Linked DNA regions of Homo sapiens: all the other regions are linked to region 1. The links come from fine-mapping of genetic effects on gene expression. A gene starts in region 1. Each other region holds a variant in brackets. All regions are shown on one strand. Distances are from middle to middle.

Region 1 (5,105 bases):
GGATAAGCGGCCTCCTCCCTCCGCAAGGCCATGTCCACACAGTTTCCCCTCCACTCTCATCCCATGCTCACCTTCCTTCTGGTTACTCCCCCGTGTGCAGTGGCATTTTCGCCACCACCACCCTGGGTGGCCTTCCCTTGACCTCATCTCCAAAGACCTTCCCCTCCACTCCATTTCAGCCGCACACTCCCACGGGCAGAACCTCTTCCTGACCCCAGGAATTCAGGTATTGCACGCCCTCCTCATAAGCTCCCACCCTTCCGGCCCAGTGACTCCCATCACGCTGGCACGTGTTCCTCAGCAGGCCTCCACTGTCTCCCTGTCTTACAGCCCCCTTTGGCCTCACCTCTCCCTCTCCCCCTACCTAGCTTGAACTGCAACCTTCTGCACCTCAATCACTCTTCTTCAGCTCTTCAAAGCCACCTTTCGCTTTTCTGAACCCAAACTCTGTAGGGGTCCAACAGCCTTCTTCTGGGTAGACCCCGCACTAGAGAAATGCAAAGCACACAGCCTAAGAGATTGGGGCCTCCGGGTCAGCGGCCCCCCACCTCAGCTGGGCCTTCAACACTGCCATAATCCCTCTGTCCTAGCCCACAGCGCCCCAAGGGAAGGGGAAGCTGGGCGGAGCGCAGTGCACCCACCTAACCCACCCCAATCCTTCCATTCCCTCCGCCTCCTCCAGGGCTTTGAGCCGCATTTCCTGCTCTTCTCGAGTAGGGGTAACCTCTCCCACTGTCAAAACTAAACTAGCTCAAGTCTTTCTCACCTGCAAAATAAACTCTCGAGTGCATCTCTCTCCAGCTACTGCCCCATGTCTTCTCCCCTTCGTGACCAGCTGTCTACACTTCCTGCCTCCATTTCCCCACTTTCTTACTCCCTGGCTCCTGCCCCCACGACACAACTGTTCCCCACAGGGCCACAGGCGGGCATCACTCAGTGTTGACAGGCTGCCCCTCCCTGTGACATAGCCCCCTGCTAGTACGCTCCTATCTCAGTCCCCTCCTCCCATGACCTGAGGCTGGAGCTCCCCCAGGATCTCTCCCAGGCCCTCTGCTCGCCATCAAAGGCGGATGCCTCACAAGCTTACGACTCCAGACAGGCTCACCCAACTGCCTCCTCCACCCAACGCTGCAGCCCACTCAAGGTCCACGTAGTCCAAGCTGCATTCCTTCCTCGCACTCCCTTGCCCTGTGTCCCCTCTTAGCAAATGGCAGCCTCGGCGATCCTGCCCCGAGACAGGCCTGCGCCCAGCGTGGAGATGAACATCAGTATTTGCTGAACGTGTAAACGAATCCTTGACCTTCCCTCATGCTCCACAGCCGGTGAGGATTCCTGTCCATTTTACTGCCTCCTACGTCCCTCGAGTCCTCCCCTCTGCTTCTTTGTTCACCGCGGCCAGCTGCCTCCCCAGACCCGCAACCCCGGCTGGGCCGGGAACCTGCACCGCGGCGCTCGTGCCCCGCTCTGCGACCCCTGCTCCGTGACGGCCGCACTGCACCGGGGTACCGCGGCCCAGCACAGGCGCTGGTCACTAGTACACGAACTAGCTAGGACTACAGGTGCACACCACCACACCTGGCTAATTTTTTATTTTTTGTAGAGATAATGTCTTACTAAGTTACCCAGGCTGGTCTTCTGGGCTCAAGCCATCCTCCTGCCTCGGGCTCCCAAAGTGCAGACATTACAGGCATGACCCACCGTGCACAGCGTCAGCTTTATTTTTTTAATGCTGACTTACTGCAGAAGGCCCAAGGGCCAGTGCAGTTTTCATACTGCTGTTGTAGTGGCGAACGGAGCCACGAGGGAAGGGAGCGCCGCCGGCAGCTGCCGGGACACCAGGATACCACGCGGCCAGCACCGAAACGCTAGGCTCGCGCTCACAACCGCAATCTACACTGAGTAGCCGCGCGCCGAACGGCGTGACTAAGCCCCGCCCACACGGCGCTCCTGGCGGCCAATGGAAATGGCTTACGAGACGCCTTCTCCACGCGCTATACTTATACGGACCAATGGGTGCGCCCTGTGGGGAGTGCCGCCCCCTGTCCACGAGCCTCCTCTTCTCGCCAGCCAATGGAAGCGGTCTGCCTAGCCCTCGCGGGGGCAAGGCGGCGACCGAGGCGCGTGGGTCTGGGAAGGCGCGCGGATTTGGCCCCTCTTCTCACATCAGCGGGTCCAGGCCCAACCGACAGACTATGGGGGCTCCGGCAACCAGGCGCTGCGTGGAGTGGCTGCTGGGCCTCTACTTCCTCAGCCACATCCCCATCACCCTGTTCATGGACCTGCAGGCGGTGCTGCCGCGCGAGCTCTACCCAGTCGAGGTGAGGGGCGCCCCTCTTATCCCGGCCCGCTGAGGCTCTCCCGGCGCTGCGTCCACAGGGCCTTCACCTCCTCCGCGCTCGCGCACTCTGGGTTCCAGTTGCCTCTCTCGGGTCCTGCCCATGCCTCCCCCGCTCCTAACCCAACTTTAGTTCGGTGTTTTCCTCGGGCTTTGTCTCTATCCCAGCCCCTTCTCCCAAGCGGCGGGGGCGAACGCTTTGTTTCCTTTAAAGTCACTTCTTCCCTGGGTTTAAGGTTTCCCGCGATTCCACCTCTGGCCGGTTGTCAGTGTCTGAGGGAAGTAGTCTGGATGAAGTGGTGTCCAAAGTCACATGTTAGGTTTGCTTTAAGCTTCTGGTTTTTTGTTTGTTTGTTTGGAAGGGCTTTAAAATACCAGTCTGATCCCAAAGAAAAAATCCGAGTAGAAATAGACCTGTCTGAAGGTTTAGCACCTTGGTTGGTGCAGCTGGGGCGTTCACAGATCGTCACTGCTTCGAGATCAGGTTCCAGCAACTTCCAGAGCTCAGGAGTAAATTGCCATCTTTTCAGATTGGCTCTTCAATATTGGGTTCGAGTAACAATGATCTCCTGAGTAAAAATAAAGGTGAAAATCCCGATTTCCTGGTTGTTGGAGAGCATTCTTTCAACCCCAAACTCTGCTTTAATGCTTTGTTTTTTTCTTCAAAGCTATAGTTTTAGTTTCCCGGTTCGTTGAGGTTTTTTTCTCGTATCTGGACCCTGTGACCTTCTTCCATGGAATTCCTGTCCTCAGTTTTGTTTCTCCATCTTATCTATAACTGTAGGCAGGACTGACTTGTCTACCCGAAGATTTTATTTTGCGTCTGTTTTTCCTTAAATGCTTTTTATCTGCCGAGGAGGGGTTCTTTACCTGAGGGTCATGAACTCCCAAAAATGGGTGCAAGTGTGTGTGCCTTTTGTTTCCTGCAAGGAGAATATAGCTTCCATCGACTTTTCAAGGGGCCTAACTCTCCCAAAAAGGCCACGGCTCAAGAATGTTCTACCACTCCCATAAGTCACTCTTTTTTGTTTGCTTCTAGAACCAAACACAACTGGAAGACCTCTGACCTCCTTTTGCATGGGAAAAGCGTAGGTAGCGTGTAGCAAGTTGCAGTCTGGGGACTTGGTTCTTCCAAGAACTGGAGGTGACTTGGGCAGGTCAGGGCTCTATATCCTCCTCAACTGTTGAGAGAGTTGAGTTAAATTATAAGCTCAAACATATACAGGGTGGGTTAGTTTTCATATTGCTGTTGTAGTTACCACAAATGTAGTGATTTAACAGATTTATTTGTTTACAGTTCTGGAGGCCAGAAGTTCACAATGAAATCTTACAGTGCTCAAATCAAGGCAGGGCTCACTCCTTCTGAGGGCTCCAGGGGAGAATCTGGTTCTTGCCTCTTCCATTTTCTGGTGGCTGCCAATGTTCCTTGGCTTGTGTTCACGTCACTTCAATCTCTGCTTCGGGTCATCACATTGCCTCCCTTTCTGTAGTCAGAGTTCCCTCTGCTTCGCTTTTATAAAGACACTTGTCATACATTCAGGGCCCACCAGATAACCCAGAAAATCTCCCATTTCAAAATCCTTAATTACATCTGCAAAGTCCCTTTTGCCAAATAAAGTAATAGTCACAGGTTCCAGGGATTAGGATGTGGTTATCTTTGGGGGCCATTATTCAGCCTACTACAGGGCCAGAGAGTACAGACTCTTCCCAAAGACCGAAGAGGTCATCGCAGCTCTGCAGTAACCATTAATTGCCCTGAAGAAAGGAAAATCTACTACAGTGTTGGCCTATCTGTGGTTTTTGAAACCTGTGTGGCCAGCAATACTCAGACAGGCTGCCTGTTTACAATCTCTGGTGTTATAGGACCTTTTAATACTTGGTAATTAGCCTGCTACTCCATGTAGCCATTCCAGACTTCACAGCTGTTGTCTTCTTTATCCTTCCTGGATGTGCCATTCTCACAAGCCCGTCTTGCTCACCCCTAACAAAATACACTTAAAAGGTGCTCAGCATCATATCATAAAGATCCCATTTAAATGTTTACATTTGATAAAATTTTCTCAGTCTTTTTTTTAGAAACAGGGTCCTTTGTCACCCAGGCTTGGCGTGCTGTGATGCAGTCATGGCTTACCACAGCCTTGAACCTGAGCACAAGAGATCCTCCCACCTGTCTCCTGAGTAGCTAGGACTATAGGTGCACACCACCACACCTGGCTAATTTTTTATTTTTTGTAGAGATGATGTCTTACTGTGTTACCCAGGCTGGTCTTCTGGGCTCAAGCCATCCTCCTGCCTCGGGCTCCCAAAGTGCTGAGATTACAGGTGTGACCCACCGTGCCCAGCGTCAGCTTTATTTTTTTAATGCTGACTTACTGCAGAAGGCCCAAGGGCCAGTGCAGGCAGCATCTGGCCAGAACCTGTGTGTGTGTGTGTGTGTGTGTGTGTGTGTGTGTGTGTGTGTTTGTGTGAGATTTAGGCATTAGCACGGGCATCCTGGGTGTGTGTGTATCTGTGTGTGTGATGATGTTTGAAGGCATTAGCTCGGTGGCATCCTGGCATGGAAGGTCTGTGCCTCCATTCTTGTTGCTTTGGTGTAGGAAATGCTGATTTTGTTGCTTCTCTATGGGGCAAATAATAATAAACGCCTTGAGTTATTCTCATATTCTCTTTGAAAAATGCCAAAATTTAACATCTGTCATTTTCTTCCTGAAATAGAAGGAATGTTTCCCTAGAGTTAAAAAACCTGTAGGAGATCACCTAGTGGTTGGGC
Region 2 (5,105 bases), 22 kb before region 1:
ACTAAAAATACAAAAATTAGCCAGGCGTGGTGGCATGCGCCTGTAATCCCAGCTACTCAGGAGGCCGAGGCAGGAGAACTGTTTGAACTGGGAGGCAGAGGTTGCAGTGAGCTGAGATTGCGCCATTGCACTCCAGCCTGGGCAACAGAGTGAGACTCCATCTACAAACAAACAAACAAACAAACAAAAACCAATCTGTGGCCTATACCATACAAATTGCTCTTAATCAGAGTATTCTTTGTAGTGTTTGCAAAGAATTCTTGTGCCACTGGAAAACAAGTTTAAAGGTAATCGCACCTTTCGAACTCCCCAAAAGAATAGGTTAATGCTTAGTGATGAATATTCCATCAAAATATATTTATTGAGCATCTCCCATTTGTCACCACTGAATTTGCAGAAGTAGAATTTAAAAAGTAAAGGTTTTAATAACTGAAATGTCCTATATTTCAAGTCCTATCCTCTTGGTTTCTCTCTCTCTCTTTAATTAATTAATTAATTTTTTCTTTTTTAAAAAAATAGAGATGGGGTCTTGCTATGTCACCCAGGCTGGTCTTGAACACCTGGCCTCAAACAGTCCTCCTGCCTCAGCCTCCCAAATTGCTGGGATTACAGGCATGAGCCACTACACCTGTCCTTGTTCCTCTCAACACACTTGAATTGATCAGACTTCAGCATTCAAACTGTCAAAATCAATTTACAAAATTCAAAGAATTCGTCAACAGTAGCACACTTCTCCCCAAAGATGCTCTTATACAATAAGCTCCCCCATGACCAGATGTACAGGCACAATGATTCCCATAATTTCTGAGGCAGCATTCACATCACATCTGCAAAGAACAAACAGTAGCTCTTGAATCCGAGAGAGCTAAAAAGTGAATGCAGCTGCTTGGTTTCCAACTAGCAAGAACTCAGAAGCTGAAATAATCCAAATGACTGGTATAGTTAAACAGGGTAACAAATGCAATGGAAACTTTGAGCCATACATTTTCCAGACCTTGATAGGAACCTGAGAAATAACCTCTCTGCTTAGAGAGCCCTCAGAAACCCCTGCTTTCATTTTATGTTTCATGGGGGTTAATTTTTCTTTCTACCACTACACAGATCTCTTATTGCAGAGCAAAAGAGCCAGGGCAATCACCAGCTTCAGGGAGAATTTAAAAGGATAAAAATTAAACTCTGCTACTGGATGATTCTCTTTATAATACTGAAGCCACAATACATTACTAAATAGCACAAATAAAGCATACTCTGATATTCTGCATTCCTTTCACTCCACCCACCCATCACCTCCACCAAAAAAAAAAAAAAAATTAAAAACAGGTTGAGCCACACACAGTATATTTGACTTGAAAGTTTCGATGACACAGCAGCTTACTCTTGCAAATTACTGGCAAATTTAACAGTGACTTAAAATACAGTTATAGGAAAAATAGACTAATCTAAGGGTAGAAAGGCAGGGAGGCAGAAAAACCCAAGCACCTTTTTAGAAAGACAACAAATATATTCAGGTACAAGATCTGCATCAGAAACAGTTTTCTTTCTTTTTCTTTGGTAAATGTAAAGACTTATCCTGAAGAGATTTTCTCAATCCCTGGCCCAGCTTCCACCCATGTTTCTGGAGTAAGCAGTGTCCAATATTATCCTGACAGACAAAACATAGAGACAAACCAAAAATATTCCAATAGTATATTCTTCCCTGCCTAGTGACACTTAAACAGATGATGAGCAAGCGATAATTCTACATATATGCATGCAAAAAGGTGCTAATAATAGCGTAAATGTGTCCAATAAGAGGGACACTAATGTAAAAAGAAAAGCTGGCTAGTATTTTATATGGGAAGAACATATAGGATAAAGGTCCTTTCTGATGGTGTGCTGGGCAACTTTCGTACATAACATTTTAAAATGGAGAAAAAGGGGAAAGGGAAAAGGGGAAGAATACATTTATGAAGTTTTAAAGTAACATTAAAAAGCATAAAATAGGCCAGACGCGGTGGCTCACCCTATAATCTCAGCACCTTGGGAGGCCGAGGTGGGCAGATCACCTGAGGTCAGGAGTTCAAGACCAGCCTGACCAACATGGTGAAACTCTGTCTCTACAAAAATACAAAAATTAACCGAGCATGATGGCAGGTGCCTGTAATCCTAGCTACTCAGGAGGCTGAGGCACAAGAATTGCTGGAACCCCAGAGGCGGAGGTTGCAGTGAGCCGAGATCGTGCCATTGCACTCCAGTTTGGGGACAGAGCAAGACTCCGTCTCAAAAAAAACATAAAATCAAAGTACGTATACAGTCATATCTACCACCTAAACAGCACCACTTTAAGATTCTTTTTTAAAGATAATATACATTGTGTTTAGTTGTTTTATGTGTCAGGCTTTCATGATACAAAGTAAGTTGTAAATGTAAGACTGTCCCACCACTAGAAATGAAAAAAACAATCAGAGCAAAATCCAGGCTAGACTTGATTGGTTTTAGAAAAGTGTGT[GTA/G]TATATATATATATACATATATATATATACACACACATACATATATATACACACACACATATATATACACACACACATATATAAAATATATATGTATATAATCCCAGCTACTTAGGAGGCTGAGGCAGGAGAATTGCTTGGCCCCAGGGGGCAGAGGTTGCAGTGAGGCAAGATGTCGCCACTGCACTCCAGCCTGGGCGACAAAGCGAGACTCCCTCTCAAAAAATAAATAAATAAATAAATAAAAAGAACCATTAGTGCACGTAGTGGGGAGAAACCAACATACATAATGTCTCATCTTCCCAGGAGCACACTGGAAAAGGTATTCCAATGTAAACTACATGAAAAAAAATGCTAAAAACAATGATTAAATGTCAGCTTTTGTTTAAGGGGTCAAGCTATCAGAAACATCTGCAGCTCTTTGTCCAGTTGTTTGCTTTTTACAGTTATTGTGAAGTACGAAGACAAGGCTAAAATAAGCACTAACCGTATCAGAAAAAATGGTGCTATACATTCAAAGGAAAAGATTGAAAAATTCTAAACACAAGGTATTCTATATGTATTAAAATGTAATTTATAGTATTAATCTAGAAAAGATTAAAAGTCTCAATATAAGTAATGTTACCAGAAAACAAAGGTAAACCATTTGAAAATAATCTCATATTTCCTGAAATCAATTTATAAAGCTGACTAAACCACAAATTTCTGCATTAAAACCAAATATTGCACATTAAATTGTTTGTCTTACATCTCCATATTCAATGATAAAATGTTCTTTGGAGTCATTGAGGAAAGAAAAACATTGTTCTACTGTTATCTTCTCTAACTAGAAGTCAGAAGAAAATTAAGCCTTCCAAATGCTCAGTTGTGTTTTGTTTTTAAAGGACAATTTCCTTCTTAAATTTATAATAGCATACAACCTACAAAACTGGGCTAAGCAGCTGATTATTTCTTTGATGGGGGAAAATCAGGACACTTTTTTTTTTTTTTTTGATACAGGTTATTGCTCTCTTGCCCAGGCTGGTGTACAGTGGTACAATTACAGCTAACTGCAGCCTTGACCTTCCGGGCTCAAGCAATCCTCCCACCTCAGCCTCACGAGTAGCTGGAATTACAGGCACACATGGCCTTGGCTGGCTACTTTTTACATTTTTGTAGAGACAAGGTTTCATTATGTTGCCCAGGATGATCTAGAACTCCTGAGCTCAAGTGATCCTCCCTCCTCAGCCTCCCAAAGTCCTGGGATTACAGGCATTAGCCCCGGATACTTCTTAAAAAACAAAAACTGGAGGCAAACTATAATGAAAAATTGTTTCTAAAACAAAACATATATTGTTTTAAATATACATACATATATATATATATATGGTATCATTATGGTACACAAAAGTTTGCTGCAAGTTATTTTTGCTACATATGAACTGAAAGAATTAGAAACACTACTGATGCCAAGTGCTGACTTCCACATTACTATACATCACGAAAACTTAATATAACACTACTGCTGCTGAGGCTTCTTCCCTTCTCCCCTCCCAAATGAACTGCCAGGAAAAGCATTCCCTTACCCAGTGCTCAGCATCTATTTATAACTTTCTTACCCCCCAAAAAAAAAAGATTAAAAGTCTCAATATAAGTAATGTTTGCAGAAAACAAAGGTAAACAGGCCCTTATTTTACTACTATGAAAACAAACTTACCTGTGCAGAAAATCCTTATTTCATATCATAATTCCTACAACTGAATAATTCTAGAAAGGGCAAGGATAGCAGAATGACTCTAAGAGTATATGGTTGATTATTGTTTAATCTCTCTCTCTCTCTCTTTTTTTTTTTTTTTGAGACTGAGTCTCACTCTATCGCCTAGGCTGGAGTGCAGTAACTCACTGCAACCTCCACCTCCTGGGTTCAAGGGACTCTTGTGCCTCAGCCTCCTGAGTAGCTGGGATTACAGGCGCCCACCACTATGCCCAGCTAATTTTTGTATTTTTAGTAGAGAAGACATTTCACCAAGTTGGCCAGGCTGGTCTCGAACTCCTGACCTCAACTGATCCGCCTGCCTCGGCCTCCCAAAGTGCTGGTATTACAGGTGTGAGCCACCTGCCCGGCCTTGTTTAATCTCTTAATAGACTCATGTTGTAACTATATTTGGCACCAAGATTTAGGTATTAAACAATGCTGACAAAAATTGTTCCTCCCTCCCATTTTGTTGTTGTCATTATTTTTTTTTAAAGGAAACTCAATCTTTGGCTAAGTGGAGATGAGACATTATGCTGACTGTGTTATATTATGAATGCACTAAAATAAACATGCAAATGAAGCAGTACACTATTTCCGAAAGCAGTCCAAGTGGAGTGAGAGCATTTCCATACAAACCTGGCTTTCAAAACTGGGCTGTCAAAAGAACAGTTAAATGTAACACAAAGTGGGCCGGGCGCGGTGGCTGACGCCTGTAATCCCAGCACTTTGGGAGGCCGAGGCAGGCAGATCACGAGGCCAGGAAATCGAGACCATCCTGACTAACACGGTGAAAACCCATCTCTACTAAAAATACAAAAAATTAGCCAGGCGCGGTGGCAGGCGCCTGTAGTCCCAGCTACTCAGGAGGCTGAGGCAGGAG
Region 3 (5,105 bases), 88 kb before region 1:
CATAGCTGCAGAGGAGGTCCCTGCTTGGACACAGGTCCCCAGGGGGCCACAGGGCTCTGACACCCACCCTCCCCTGTGCTGCCCTCCAGCCTCCCTGGAGGTAGAGCTGAAAGGGTGAAGCTGAAGAGGCAGCTGTAGGTCACTGGCTATGTGGATTCTGATGCTCTGTGCCTTTGCCCAGGCCACTGTCCCTGCTTGCAGAGAGCCCTTTCCCTCTCTTCAGCCTGGAAGATACTCTCAGGATAGTGGTCACCTCCTCCCGGAAGCCTTGCCTGATTTCCTGGGGATGGAGTTAGTTTCTCTGGCTCCCTCTCCCCACTCATTATCTTAGACCCACTTTCCATCCCATTTTGCTGCCTGTCTTCTCTCCTGCGATAGGACAGGTGGGATGGGAGCATACAGTGGCTACCCGGAGCTTCAGCTCACTGTGTGGGTGGGGAGTGGGAGGATGTGTCTGTGCGCTGGTGTCTGTGATCCCTTATCTATTGGTCTGCCTGGGAGAGCTGTAGTCAGTTTAAGGTGGATGGAAGAGAGACCTGGTATGAATTAGGCATGACCACAGACAATTTTTGCCCAGCTTGTCATGTCTCATTGACCATCAGTGACATGGGTCCACCTCATGTTCATTTTGAAGAGTGTTGAGCAGTTTAGGGTAATAATATTATTAATAACTATTATTAGTATAATAATTAATATAATAGCAATAATTACCTTTTCCAAAAAGCACTTATTTATGTGCTAGACTCTGAGCTGTTCGTTTTACATATATGATATTACTAGGATATTGATTTGGCTTAAAAAAACAGATAGAATTAACAGTGACTTAAACAGAAAGGAAATTTATTTCTCTTACCTGAAATGCAAGTGACATCTGGGGAGCTGGCCTCTCTGCTCCACGAGGGCATCCAAAAGCCCAGGCTCCTCATTTGTGGCTTCCCCATGCCCTCATCTATGTCATTGACAGGACTGAAGACAGCCTGCCATGACCTCATCTGTGTTCCAGCCAGTGGCAAGTGGGGGAAGGGAGAGGGTAGGTGCTCTGGTTACTATGTTGTATAATAAGTTACCCTAAAACTTGGCAGCCTCAAACAACCATTGTATGTCACTCATGATGTTGTGGGTCAGGACCAGGAAGCGCTCACCTCAGCAGTTCTCGCTTTGAGTCTCACATGCGGATACCATCAGAGGCTGGCAGATCTGCAGTTATCTAAATGATCCACCGGGCTGATGCCTGAGGAGTCTCACTCCCATGCTGGTGCCGGCTGTTGAGTTCAGCCGGGGCTGTTGACTGTCGTACCTACAAATGGGCTCTCCAGCACGATATTCTTGGGGTAGTTGGACTTACATTGTAGCTGGCTTCCCGCTTATTTCCAGAGAATTGGATGAAGATGGCATTGCTATTTAGTTTGCTAGGGCTGCTGTAGCAGGACGAGTCGCAGACAAAACTCCTGAGACACCGGATTAAAGAAGGAAGAGGTTTTTTATTCGGCCGGGAGCATCAGCAGACTCGCATCTTAAGAGCCGAGCTCCCCGAAAAAGAAATTCCTAGCCCTTTGAAGGGCTTACAACTCTAAGGGGTCTACGTGAAAGAGTCATAATAGATCAAGTAAGTGTGAGGAATGTGACTGTGGGCTACCTACATCAGCTAACACTACAAAAAGTTTTACAGTGCTTTCTCACACAATGTCTGGAATTTACAGATAACACCAGTAGTTTTGGTCAGGGGTTAATATTATTATCATTTTAACCACCAGGGCCAGGTGGTGGCGCCAAGGTCGTCTAGCTATTTATCTTTCTTCTGTTTCTTTCCAACTTTTTGCTTTCTCCCTTTTCTCCTGTCTTATAAACTAGGGAAAAGGGGAGGTTGGGGAGAAACTGGGAAGGACAACAGGAGAAGTGGTGGTCTCGTACCATATTCCCCCCCTTTGAGAATTTTCACTTTTTAGTGGGAGTTCTCACTCTCATCCTCACTTTCTGAGTCTCTTTGCGAGATAGAGCGATAGTGATTCATATAATACACGTGTGCTGAAGTTTTTTGATGAACCAAAGTAGCAACAAAACATTTTATCATTTGAAAAAGCAAGGGTAATACACAGGGGAGCAGCAAGCAAGTTCCTATTACTAGCACTACACCTACAATGAGGGTTTTTAATCCTCCTGTAGCTGGAAACCATTTTCCAAAGAAAGACTCAGGATCAAACTCGTGCCAAACCTGTACAGACACATGTGCCACCTTTGTCATGTCCCTGACTATGTTTTCAACCACCTGTCCTTGATCATCTATTTGTAGGCAGCA[A/C]CTGGTTAAGTTAAATTTTTCACAAACTCCTCCTTCAGCTGCTAGCAAGTAGTCCAAGGCCAGCCTATTCTGAGAGATAGCATTCCTCATTTGGGTTTCCTGCCAAGCTAAAACAGTCAAAGTTTCATTAGTAATTATTTCTAAGATGGCCTGCAACCATATGATCTGATTGAGCATGTAGATGGGGATTCAGTATCCCCATGAGCTGTCTTGTGCCCATGCGGCAGGCCCATAATACTGTATGATCCTTTCAGGGGGCCACTCATTATCTTTCCAGTTTCCTATAACTATGCCTCTCTTGGGAGGCATAGACAGGGAAACCTAGGAGCTCACCCGTTTTTATGGGTAATAAGAAAAAGGACGGCTTAATAGTGCCAATAACACAACTGCCTGCCCATTTATTAGGTAACCGAATGTAGGCTCCGTGCCCACATATCCAGTATAGTCCAGCGGGAGCTGCCCAGTCCTGATGAGATTCTGGATGAGCCCAGGCAGTTTTTAATTTAGAAAATTTACTAAATGGGTTCTTTTCAGTGTGGTTTAGGCCCCACCAAGTAATTGTCTTTGTTGTGCTGTTGTACAACTTCTGTCCTATACAATTAAGCTTTCTTACAGGGATGATAAAGACTTTCCCTTCTCTAGCTATACAGTATTGTCCAATAATTGAGGTTTTTAGGACCCAGAAGTTGCTAGCTTGGGCCTTCTGAACTGGAATTACATCAGGAGCTGGATCAGTAGGCACCAACTCTCGGGCTTCCCAAGGCCATCGGTCTCCGATAGTGGTTCCCCCGCATACATAACAAGAAGTAACATTAAGGGAATGAGCTACATTTTCTGCTGATTGGATAAACAAATTTTTTGTCTTTTTCGGAAGTTCTGGTGCTGGCAGATTCAGCTCCTCATAAAAGGTTTGAAATACTGGCTTGGGAGAGCGCTTGTGGACCTCCCCTCTAATTAAAATGGCAACTTGGGGGTTTAACCCCGTCCCATCGATCCCCAGGGTTACACGTTCTCCCTTTTTCTAATGGGGATCTAGGGGATTGGTAATTATTAGTTCTAGTGGGTTACAGTGACCGGCAGCACAGGAAGGGTTGGCTTCCCCCTTCTGAAGATGAACCGGGTCTTTTTTGTTCTTTTTCCAAGTAGCCCAAATAACACATGGCCAAAAGGCACAATTTTCACAATCCCCTGACTCATGACAAACATATTTATTTTCTACTCTGTAGCTCCTTTCCCAGTTAAGAGAACCACATTCTGTTCCTAGTTTGTTACTATTAATGGCTGCACAAGCATCAAATCTTAAAATTATTTGTTTGGGGATTCCTTTTTCTTCTGTTCTAGTTATTATTTTACTTGTGTCACCTAGGAAAAGGCTAGTTCTTAATCTTGTTTCAAAAATGGTGGTTGCAGGGGGCTCAGATGGGTTATAACACACATCAGGTGGGTCATTTCCCAGGCTACATACCTTGTACTGAGTGGCATTATACAAACAAGTTTCTTTTAACATTCCCATATATTCATAATAACTATAGAACAGAAAGATTGTTTTAATTTGCTGTCCTACCTCAGTGACCTGATGAATACACTGGGAACAGTCCCCAGTTTGAGTAAGGTCAGTTGAAGCCCTTACTGTGTAAGTCCAGAATTTAAGAAAAATGAATCCCACGATGAGCTTCCTCATGCTTCGGCCGTGCGTGGACCAGTCAGCTTCTGGGTGTGACTGGAGCAGGGCTTGTCGTCTTCCTCAGGGTCACTCTGCAAGGGTCGTCTGGGCTTGGTCTTGCCTCCCAGGTTTCAGGTGCTGCAGGTTTTACACGGCTGTGGTGGATCCAGGCTGGGATTCCCTCTACCTTCACAGCGGTGGGAGTGGTCAGGACGACAGACTACGGTCTTTCCACCGTGGGCACAAAGAAGTTACGTTCCAGTCCTTGATCCACACTCGATTACCTGGGGAGAAAGGGTGAACTGGGGAGAATAAGCTAACAGGGCATCTCTCATTTACCCAGGCTGAGATTGTTTGTGTAATTTTTCCTAAAGCCTGTAGTTGTCGCTGTAACTCAATTTCACCTAACTCTCGGGGAGTGCCTGGAAGTCCCTGCAATATGGGAGGGGGCCTATGATACAATATTTCATAAGGGGAATATCCTGTTCTTTTAGAAGGGGTACATCTAATTTTAAATAATACCATAGGGAGAGCCTGTATCCATTTTAATCCTGTTTCCTGACATACTTTCCCTAAGCTATTTTTGATAGTCCAATTCATCGACTCCACCTTTCTGGAACTCTGAGGCCGGTAGGCAGCATGCAGTTTCCATGTGTTCCCCAATACCTTTGCCCTCTTCTGTACCAAGTCAGCCACAAATGCTGGCCCATTATCTGAGCCGATCCGTAAGGGCAGTCCAAATCTAGGAATAGGATCTCGAAGAAGCACACAGGTTACTTCACGAGCTTTCTCAGTTTGTGCTGGATAAGCCTCCACCCACCAGAGTAGGTACACACAAGAACTAGTAAATACTTGTTACCTCCACACTTTGGCATCTCTGTGAAGTCCACCTGGACATCTTCAAAGGGGGCTGCTCCATAAGCTTGTATGACGGGCGGAACAGCTGGACCTTGCTTCGCATTATGCTTTGGGCAGGTAACACACCGCTGCGTCACCGTTTTGGCAAGGGCTGACAAATGCAAGATGTAGAAATACCGGACTAACAACTTTTCAAGTGACTCCTGGCCTAGATGGGTGGTTTTATGCACAGCCAGCACAACTGCGGCTCCTAGCAGCTGTGGCACAGCTTCTCTCCCATCTGGTAAC
Region 4 (5,105 bases), 29 kb before region 1:
TACAAGTGTGAGCCACCACACCAGGTCAGAAGTTAGTGCAATATTAATTAGCATTCTAATTTAACCATAAGGCCTAAATTGTAACATTACATGTTTCTATTCTATTGTATTGAATTCAAATCTAGTTTTCTGCCTGTAATCCTAGCACTTTGCAAGGCTGAGGTGGGAATATTGTGTGAGGCCAGGAGCCTGGGCAATATAGCAAGACCTCATTTCTAGTGGAAAAAAAAATCTAATTTTCATTTAGTCATAAAATGTAGACTAAATATTGTTGAGACTTACCTAATGCAGGCCTTACTCTACTGTAGTCACCATTTATTTCCTAACTGAAACAAGACTGGGAAGGAGGTATACATAAGCAAAACCGAAGAAATGCCCCAACCCTACTCTGCTTTCACTCTGCCCACTCTAGGTCTTTTCTAAAACAATTATATTTTTTGAATAGTAATACAAGTACATGATATCAAATTTTTTTTTTTTTTTTTTTTTTTTTTTTTTTTGAGACGGAGTCTCGCTCTGTCACCCAGGCTGGAGTGCAGTGGCGGGATCTCGGCTCACTGCAAGCTCCGCCTCCCGGGTTCACGCCATTCTCCTGCCTCAGCCTCCCAAGTAGCTGGGACTACAGGCGCCCGCCACTACGCCCGGCTAATTTTTTGTATTTTTAGTAGAGACGGGGTTTCACCGTTTTAGCCGGGATGGTCTCGATCTCCTGACCTCGTGATCCGCCCGCCTCGGCCTCCCAAAGTGCTGGGATTACAGGCGTGAGCCACCGCGCCCGGCCGATATCAAATTTTTTAAATACAGGAAAATGCAACTCAGTTTCCCTTCAGAGAGTCTATCGTTACACAAATTTTTATCTTCATCATCAAGCAAATACAAACATAAATTTACAGGCACACTCCTGTATACCCACAGAATGCACCATTTTAATATTTCACAATAAAATGCCTCAGTTTTACTACCCAAGCTGTAGAGAATGTTCATCTCTCTTAACACATTTTTTCAGCTAATGATTTTATAAAGTAAAATTTTTACATTTATTTATTTCAATCCCAAAACATAATACAATGTTCTTTAAAAGATGTGTGAGATGTCTGGAGATATATTCCAAATAAAACTAACAAAACTTTGAAAAATCTGCTTCAATATCAACAAAAGGAATGTACGTGTTATTACACAGGAAGCAACTGTGTGTTATATTAATTATTTAGTAACCAGGAAGAAATGCTTAAGAATTTTATATCCTAAAAATTTTGTTAATTGCATGAATATGGCCAGGCCAGTGGCTCACGCCTGTAATCACAGCACTTTGGGAGGCTGAGGCGGGCGGATCATGAGGTCAGCAGTTCAAGACCAGCCTGACCAACATGGTGAAACCCCGTCTCAACTAAAAATATAAACATTAGCCAGGCGTGGTGGTGGGTGCCTGTAGTCCCAGCTACTCAGGAGGCTGAGGCAGGAGAATTGCTTGAACCCGGGAGGCAGAGGTTGCTGTGAACCAAGATCGCGCCATTGTACTCCAGCCTGGGCGACAGAGCAAGACTCCATCTAAAAAAAAAAAAAAAAATTGCACGACTAGCCCAGGCATGGTGGATCACACCTGTAATCCCAGCACTGTGGGAATCCAAGGTGGGAGGATTGCGTGAGCCCACGAATTTGAGACCAGCCTGGGCAACATAGTGAAACCTTGTCTCTATAAAAAGTTTCTTAAAAATTAGCCAGGCATAGTGGTGTGCACCTGTAGTCCCCACTACTCAGGAGCCTAAGGCAGAAGGATCACTAGAGCCCAGGAGATCAAGGCTGCAGTGAGCTATGATTATGCTACTGCACTCCAGTCTGGGCAACAAAGCAACATGGTCTCAAAAAAAAAAAAAATTGCTGGATTCAAGAATACCTCCATTTTAATTTTTAAGTAATCTAAATTGTTCTCTGTAGTGGCTTTCACCAATTTCTATTCTCATGGCTATGGTGTAAGTACCTATTTTCCCATAATCTTACCAAGCTAACATTTCATAGTTTAATATGCACGTCTCTTACTATGAGAATGGTTGAGAATATTTTCATATATTTGAAGGCCATCTGTGGCCAGGCATGGTGGCTCACGCCTGTAATCCCAGTACTTTGGGAGGCCAAGGTGGGTGGATCACCTGAGGTCAGGAGTTCAAGACCAGCTTGGCCAACATGGTGAAACCCCGTCTCTACTAAAAATACAAAAAAATTAGCCAGGTGTGGTGGCTCTCTCCTGTAATCCCAGCTACTCACAAGGCTGAGGCAGGAGAATCACTTGAACCTGAGAACTGGAGGTTGCAGTGAGCCGAGATTGCACCATTGCACTCCAGCCTGGGCGACAGCGCAAGACTCCATCTCAAAAAAATAAATAATAAAAAGTAAAGGCCATCTATATTGCCTTTCTGTACACAGTGTTCATACCATTTCCC[C/T]TTTTCTATTATATTTAGGTCTTTCTTAAACTGATAAATCCCTGAAGCAAAGTTGTTCTTTGCCTATAATGAGATATTACAGATATTTTTCCCAGTCTATTTGTTTGTTGACTTTGTTATGATGAAATATAACCAAATTTATCCTTTCCTTTTTTGAGGCAGGCTTGCTGTGTTGCTCAGGCTGGAGTACAGTGGCGGGATCATAGCTCACTGCAACTTCAAACTCCTGGAGTCAAGCGATCCTCTCACCTCAGCCTTCCAAATAGCTAGGAATACAGGTGCATGCCACCATACCCGGCTAATCTGTTTTTTTTTTAATTTTTTGTAGAGACGAGGTCTTATTGTTGCCCAAGCTGGCCTTGAACTCATGGCCTCAAGTGATCCACCACCTTGGCTTCCCAAAGTCCTGGGATTACAAGTGTGAGCCACTGTGACTGGCCTTATACTTTTCTTAACCCATTTATGCCTGAGGTTGCAATTTTTTAAATTTTTGCAATCAGACCTTGGCAATGACCTTGAACAGTAGGACACGAATAACTCCCAGATGCTTAGCATTCCAATAATGGAATACTAGGCATATTTGTCCATGTCTTATGGCTTCTAAGTTTTGGGTTAAGCTTAGAAAAGTTTTTCTTATTCAAATATTATTTTTAAGATAATTCCACCATTGTTCATCCTAATAATTTTATGATTTCATTTTTTACATTTAAAGCTTTTATTCATCTGGAATCTATCTGGGGTAAGGAATGACAATGGGGATCCAGTTATTTAAATTCTGGGTTGTTATTCAGTTGTCCCAACACCACTACTGAGTAACTGAAGCTCTTTTTAGATGATTTTTTAGAAGTTAGACTCAGAAGTAGAGATGACTAGTGAGCTCAGAATTAGTGAAACCAACACCAAAATTAGGAATTTAGGGGTCCTAAAACACATATAACATTAAAAGCACAGATCCTGAAGTCCAACATCTATCACATACAAAGCATATTAACTAGTACTGTTGTTAGACTTGGAAGACCTAAGGATGGATTATCTCTAATTCAGTTAAAATAACTATGTACTATACAATAGGTATTAATAATAAGCATTTATATGGCACTTTTACAGTTTGTATAATGTGAGTTCACTTACTTTGTCTTCATAACTACTCTTTAAGAAGATGGGTAGAGATTTTAATTTCCATTTATTGCTGAGGAAAATAATTCAGTGGTGGTACCTTGTCCCTTTACTTATAGGAATTGGTAGTGCCAAACTCAAACCCAGATCTCATATTTCCAAATATTAGCACTCTGCTTTTATATCCTGCACCAAGTACTTTTATGCAAAAATTAATGAGACTTCCTACTCACAAGGAGGTTGAAACGATTTTTCAATTAAATATTCAGACCAATCACATACTTAATTCTAAGCATGAAAGGAGTACACAGAAGTAGAAAACATCCTTGGCTTTAAGGAAACTTCAAAGGTCTACAGCAGTTTAAACAAATAAGGCTTGGGAGACTGGAAAATAAACCTGAAGGTCAGGAACCATCTTATCTACTCTCTCCTTGTCATACAGTATTTACAGCTGGTATAACTAGAATGTAGTGTTAGGTCAGTAAATATTTGTTGGTTGTCTAAATGTACTGATCGAAACTTCTAGACAGGGTGAGATATGAAATAATATCAGATCCCACTTATTTTTCCCAGGGGCTAAACTTTTGTCTGTGACCAAAGACTCAGCCAAATCATCAAACAGTTCTTAGACAATGTAAGTCTACACCTACTGGGCTACACCTACTGACTAAATGTATTTCACAGAAAAATAAAAATGTTGAACTACATTTCATTTCAAAACTGCCAAAAGGTTATAAAACAATTTCCAGAACTGAATCTAGTCCAACTGCTACAAAATACAACTATCATTCACTCTTGCTTTACTCTGAATTAAACACATCTTCTGCTTCTACAATAAATAATTGTTCATAATATTTCTCATCAGTTGTGCTTTCTTTGTGTTGTTTCCTTCAGATATCTTGTCAACATATATTTTCTGCAGGTCTTTTATTTTTTAATACTAACAATCACTTATCTGCCACATATGATAATTTTTTTAAAACTTCTGAAATATTTTAGCAAATACTAAGGGAGAACAAAACATGAATATGAAAATAGAAGTACAAAAATAAACTCAGTTTACAAAGTTCAATTTGTATCCTGCCACAGATAACTTCACTTCAGAGTCTGCACGCCCTATTCTCCCATCTATCCAGTGACAAGATATTGGCATTGGAGCCTCAAGGACTGCAACTTTTGTTGGCAAAAGCCTTGCATGGGTCAAGATAATTTTTAAGCCTTTGATAAAGAAAGCCCAAAGAGACCAGGCTTAAAATTTTAGTGGATGGTTGCGTGTTAGATATGTTAGAGTCCTAAACTCAAATAAAAAGGCAAGTTGACAATAAACTAGTCAATGCAAAGAGCTTACAAAAGCATAAGCCCAGAAATTACATGCAATGCCTAGTCTATAAAATACCAAGAAGGCGGCTGGGTGCGGTGGCTCAAGCCTGCAATCCCAGCACTTTGGGAGGCCAAGATGGGCGGATCACGAGGTCAGGAGTTCGGGACCAGCCTGGCCAACATAGTGAAACTCCATCTCTACTAAAAATACAAAAATTAGCCGGATGTGTT
Region 5 (5,095 bases), 73 kb after region 1:
ATCCCAGCACTTTGGGAGGCTGAGGCAGGAGGATCACTTGAGGTCAGGAGTTCGAGACCAGCCTGGGCAACATGGTGAAACCTTGTCTCTACTAAAAAAATACAAAAATTAGCCAGGCATGGTGGCGCACACCTGTAATCCCAGCTACTCAGGAGACTGAGGCAGGGGAATCGCTTGGGCCCAGAAGACGGAGATCACACCACTGCACTCCAGCTTGGGCAACAGAGTGGGACCCTGTCTCAAAATGACTAGATCGCATACAAGTTGGTGTAAATGCTGAGCCAGGTAAGCAAACATCTTGCTTGCCACAGGGGTTTGGAGAAGGGAGAGAGCATCAAGGTGTCAACGAAAAGAGTCAGACTCTATGAGCGACCATGGCCTGTGACACAGCCCTCAGGAGACCCTGAGAACACGTGCCCAAGGTGATCAGGGCACAGTTTGGTTTTATACATTTTTGGGAGACACGAGACATCAATCAATACATTTAAGATGTACATTGGTTTGGTTCAGAAAGGCAGGACAGCTCAAAGCAGGGGCTTCCAGGCTATAGGTAAATTTTAAATTTTTCCAGTTGATAATTAATTGAGTTTATCTGAAGACCTGGGATCAATAGAAAGGGAATGTTTAGGTTAAGATAAAGGGTTGTGGAGACCAAGTTTTATTGTGCAGAGGAAGTTCTCAGGGCAGACTTCAGAGGGAGTAGGTTATAAAATGTTTCTTATCAGACTTATAAGGGTGCCTGGCTCTTTGTTGATTATCTCCTGAGTCCGGAAAGAAAAAGAAAAAAATGGGGGGAAGGGGATTCTCTATAGAATGTGGCCTTTTCCCACAAGAGACAAACTTGTGGAGCAATTTCAAGATATGGCAGGGAAATATATTTGGGGTTAAAATATTTTTATTTCCTCCCTTATTATGTGATGTTATGCTAGAGTCAGGTTAGAAAGCAGACCACGCTATATAGGGTTAAAATTAAAACCTCCTCCGATAAGACTTTATGGTTTGTAGGGCATGACTCCCTAGGCTCCTTAGGTAGGAATTTGGGCAAGATAAAAAAAAAAAAAATCAGAGTTTAGTCCTCAAAGGACTGGAATAATCAGGGAAGACTTCATGGAGGAAGCAGGTCTTGAGAAGAATCTTAAGAATCTGGGTAAGTGGAATAGAAGGCATCCCAGGCCAGGGTAACAGCATGAGCAAAGGAATAAAGGTAGGGAGGAGAACAGTGCTGAAAGCCCACATACATCTTGGTACTGCTTTCTCCATATCACAGATGAAGAAACTGAGGCTCAGAAAAGTAGAATAATGTTCCCCTGGCTGCACTACTAGTGTAGAAATCAGAAAAGCTAGGCTTCAAATTCCATCTATCTGACTCCAAAGCTCATCACTTTCCCAAGATCCACACTGCATTCTATGGCACAGCTCTGAGGGGGTGTGAGGGGAGGTGATGGGGTAGGGCTGGATTCGGTTGACACCAGAGATGATTGTATCTCTTCACAACTCCACATCCAGTGATGTCATGTTGGTAGCTTGTCATCAGCCATGGTGGGAGTATTTACACCAAGGAAATTGGCAACCACTACAAATCAAAGTTTTGTTAGTTTGGTTGATTGGCTGGTTGGGTTTTCTTCCCCCATGAATAGCTAGTTACTATAAAGTTAGCAGCACACCACTGGCTGGATAAGAACCATGGAAACCAGGTAAAGCAGTGTCTAAAGGCAGGAGAAGACCTGTGCTTAAAGCACTGGAAATCAAGGAGCCCATGAAGGAGAAGATGCCAGGGCGGTGGGTCTTAGGATGAAGGCTCTGACACTGGAATGCAGTCCACATGGAGTGTGGAGTCAAGCCCCAGAGGCCATGTAGGAGGGGCTGAGTACTAGGCCTGGTTTGGGGAGGGGCACTGGGGCAGTTGAGCATCCAGGAAGAACATGGCTGATAACCCAGAGCACGTGGCAGGCAGCCTTTTGAGAGAAAGAAAAGAGTGTCTGTGAGCTCCATGAGACTTCAGACCTTGCCTCATTCATCTGTGTCCCTGGTGCCTAAAACCATGCATGGTACAAAGGAGGCTCTATGCAATTGCACCAAAAAAAAAAAAAAAAAAAAAGAGAGAGAGAGAGAGGCTGAGGCTGTAGAGGAGTTTATAGAACAATTGAATCAATGATTAAGCAGACAAGTGATACTGATGAAGCTGAGATGCCATGCCTGGGAGAGCCATACATATCTAGTAGATTTACCAGGTTAGAGGACTTGACTCCGTTTTTTTTTTTTTTTTTCCAGTAGAGATAGGGTTTCGCTATGTCACCCAGGCTGGTCCCGAACTCCTGAGCTCAAGCCTGGAGTTCAGTGCCTGCCTCGGCTCCCCAAAGTTCTGGGATTAGAGGCATGAGCCACCGTGCCCAGCCAGAGGACTTGACTCTAATTGTTTTCGTTCTCAACCAGCTAGGTGATCCTGAACAAACCATTATCCCTTTCTTTTATTTATTTAATTATTTTTTTTTTTTTGAGGCACAGTCTTGCTCTATCACCAGGTTGGAGTGCAGTGGTGAGATCTTGGTCGGCTCACTGCAACCTCCGCCTCCCGGGTTCAAGTGATTCCCCTGCCTCAGCCTCCTGAGTAGCTGGGACTACAGGCACACGCCACCATATCCAGCTAAT[T/TTA]TATATATATATATTTTTAGTAGAGACGGGGTTTCACCATCTTGGCCAAGATGGTCTCGATCTCCTGACCTCGTGATCCGCCCGCCTTGGCCTCCCAAAGTGCTGGGATTACAGACATGAGCCACCACACACGGCCGCCATTATCCCTTTCTTGGCCAGCCTCTGAATCTGTGCGATGAATAATTTGTACTGTCTTTGGTTTTGTATAATTCTGGATGAAACAAATTTCTAAAAATTTCCAAATAAATTGCTGCAGGCTCAGGATTCATTCCAATGCTCAGCAGAAAGGCAGCAGGGCTTGGCTGAAACAGCCTGGACTTGGACTCTCGAGGCTTGAGTCAGAGGACCGGCCCCTCGTGGGCTGGGCGTGTGTGTGGCTTAGGAGGAAATCCCTTCCTCTCTGGGCTTTTTTCTCTCCATCTGTAAAATGGAGCGGCTCCCCAGGAAGCCAGTCAAGGACGAAGTTACGCATGTTCTTTCCCCAGGAAGGCTCCACTTCCCAAGAATGCTTGGCACCCCTTGTCGTCCCAGCAGATGGCAAAGAGGTGAGAGGAGCCTTTGTCTTGGACCGGCCCCAGAGGCTCCGTCATCCCTCTTTGGTTGTTTCTGGTGCTTAATTGCCTCTGGTTTTAAAACTCCTTTCCCTGAAGCCACATTAGTGGGTAATCAATAGGGAAAAACCACAAGTGAACTGCACTCAAAAAAGTAAAATCCCTTTGGTTCCCTCTTGAGAGGAAGAAAAACATTCAATAAGCACTTAATGGAACCCGATTACTAGCAAATAATTCCTCAGAACAACGCTTTGAGGTAGGTTTTATTATCCCCACTTTACAGAAGAGGAAATAATAACACCTATTACGTATTAAGCATACACTGCATGCAAAGCACTGTTCTAATTACTTGCCATGGAATGTTGCGCTTATTCCATGGAACAATCCTGAAGACAGGGACTATCATTAATCCTGCTTTATATATTAGAAAACAGAGGAACGAGTGTGGTAGTGCAGGCCTGTGATCCCAACACTTTGGGATGCTAAGGTGGGAGGATCACTTGAGGCCAGGAGTTTGAGACCAGCCTGGGCAACATGGTGAAACCCCATCTCTACTAAAAAATACAAAAAATTAGCCGGACATGGTGGCACACGCCTGTGGTCCCAGCTACTTGGGAGGCTGAGGTGGGAGGATGGCTTGAGCCCAGGAGGTTGAGGCTGCAGTGAGCCTTGATGGTGCCACTGCCCTCCAGCCTGGGCAAAAAGTGAGATCCTGTTCCCCTGCCCCCCGCCAAAAAAAAAAAAGAAAGAAAGAAAAGAGAAAACAGAGACTTTGAGAACCTATTATTTTTGCCTCAGGTCGTAGAGCCTGTGTCAGAGACTCAGTGCAAACCCCGATTTGATGATTCCAGAGTGCAGCCCTAACTGCTGTGCTATGTTTTCTCATTCATTCATTCATCCATCTATTAAATATTTAGCAAGGGCTAACTATAAGGGCTTTGTGAAAGATGCTGAGATATAAGGTCAGTGAAAAATAGATATGATCCCTCCTCATGTCTGGCAGAGAAGACAAATACTGAGTAATTTACCCATTAATTAATTAAAATTTGCAACTATAATATGTTCTGCAGAGCCTATAATAGGGGAACTGACTTGGTCAGGGCAGTGGGAGACAACTGCCCTGTGTAAGAGTTGATTGAGCTCAGATCAGAAAAATGAATGGGCATTATCAAGGGGGAAGGACAAGGAAGCTTATTTTGTGTGTCTGGGAGGACAGGGCAGGGGTAGAGTTTGAGAAGTGGACTGTGGCCAACCACATAGGGTCTCACAGGCCACATGAAGGAGTTTGGACTTTATTCTAAGACCATGCAAAGTCTTGAAGAATTTTAAGTAGGGGGTGACAGGACCTAATTTGTCAGATGTGCATTTTGCAAATATTAGCTACATGAAAGGGCAATGTGGAGAGTGAATTAGAGAAGACAAGCGTGGATGAGGAAAGACCTGGTGGGGGCTTAAAGATAATGGGGATTGGAAGAGGGTGGTAGTGGGGTGGAGGTAGGGAAAAATAGTGGATTTGAGAAATAAGTAAGGAGTACAATTGGCAGGGCGCATGATGGATCAACCTGTACGCAGGAGTGTGATGTTTTTCTTCTGACACCAAATTGTTTGGGGTTTTTCCCACACTAACCACTAATTCTCCAGCTTGCCAACACCAACTGGGTATCCCGCAATTCAATTCAATTCTGAAATGTCAGTCACGAGGCCCAGGCCCCCAGGCTGCCACATTTCTGTTTGATTTGGCTACAAATTCGGGGGTGCCCATGACACCCCGAGATTCAATTTGCCAGAATGACTCACAGAACTCAGGAAAGCACTTTACTTACTATTAGTTGTTTATTATGTCAACCTTAAATAATGAGATTCAGAAAATAAGACTAAGTATAGAGTTTCTTTGA

Which allele goes with the higher level. Alleles are on the strand shown, and positions count from the first base shown. SD is a standard deviation of normalised expression in the study named. Not every link is listed here.
As copies of C replace A in region 3, the expression in pancreas of the gene that starts at base 2,153 in region 1 goes up (small effect, 0.18 SD a copy in GTEx).

Evidence for each region. PIP is the estimated chance that this variant, and not a neighbour inherited with it, causes the effect. A credible set is the group of variants that fine-mapping cannot tell apart.
Region 2: its variant is the best candidate, but not a certain one, in a credible set for the expression of TMEM97 in activated naive CD4 T cells (Schmiedel 2018, PIP 0.67).
Region 3: its variant is the best candidate, but not a certain one, in a credible set for the expression of TMEM97 in pancreas (GTEx, PIP 0.72).
Region 4: its variant is the best candidate, but not a certain one, in a credible set for the expression of TMEM97 in skeletal muscle (GTEx, PIP 0.58).
Region 5: its variant is the best candidate, but not a certain one, in a credible set for the expression of TMEM97 in sigmoid colon (GTEx, PIP 0.83).

What each region holds. Positions count from the first base shown.
Region 1 is chr17:28,317,048-28,322,152 of GRCh38, forward strand. TMEM97 (transmembrane protein 97) reads left to right here and starts at 2,153. Exons shown (of 3, transcript NM_014573.3): 1 at 2,153-2,318. The coding sequence starts at 2,193. RefSeq lists enhancers at 432-1,257, 1,477-1,736, 2,217-2,276.
Region 2 is chr17:28,295,047-28,300,151 of GRCh38, forward strand. It overlaps the pseudogene KRT18P55. Among named protein-coding and RNA genes, the nearest start is that of TMEM97, 22 kb to the right of the region's middle. The variant GTA/G (reference allele first, on the strand shown) is at 2,489.
Region 3 is chr17:28,229,100-28,234,204 of GRCh38, forward strand. No RefSeq gene overlaps it. Among named protein-coding and RNA genes, the nearest start is that of TMEM97, 88 kb to the right of the region's middle. The variant A/C (reference allele first, on the strand shown) is at 2,297.
Region 4 is chr17:28,287,961-28,293,065 of GRCh38, forward strand. It overlaps the pseudogene KRT18P55. Among named protein-coding and RNA genes, the nearest start is that of TMEM97, 29 kb to the right of the region's middle. The variant C/T (reference allele first, on the strand shown) is at 2,439.
Region 5 is chr17:28,389,631-28,394,725 of GRCh38, forward strand. The region is part of intron 7 of SARM1 (sterile alpha and TIR motif containing 1); the gene reads left to right. SLC46A1 (solute carrier family 46 member 1) reads right to left here. Exons shown (of 5, transcript NM_080669.6): 5 at 5,012-5,095. Among named protein-coding and RNA genes, the nearest start is that of SLC46A1, 14 kb to the right of the region's middle. The variant T/TTA (reference allele first, on the strand shown) is at 2,650.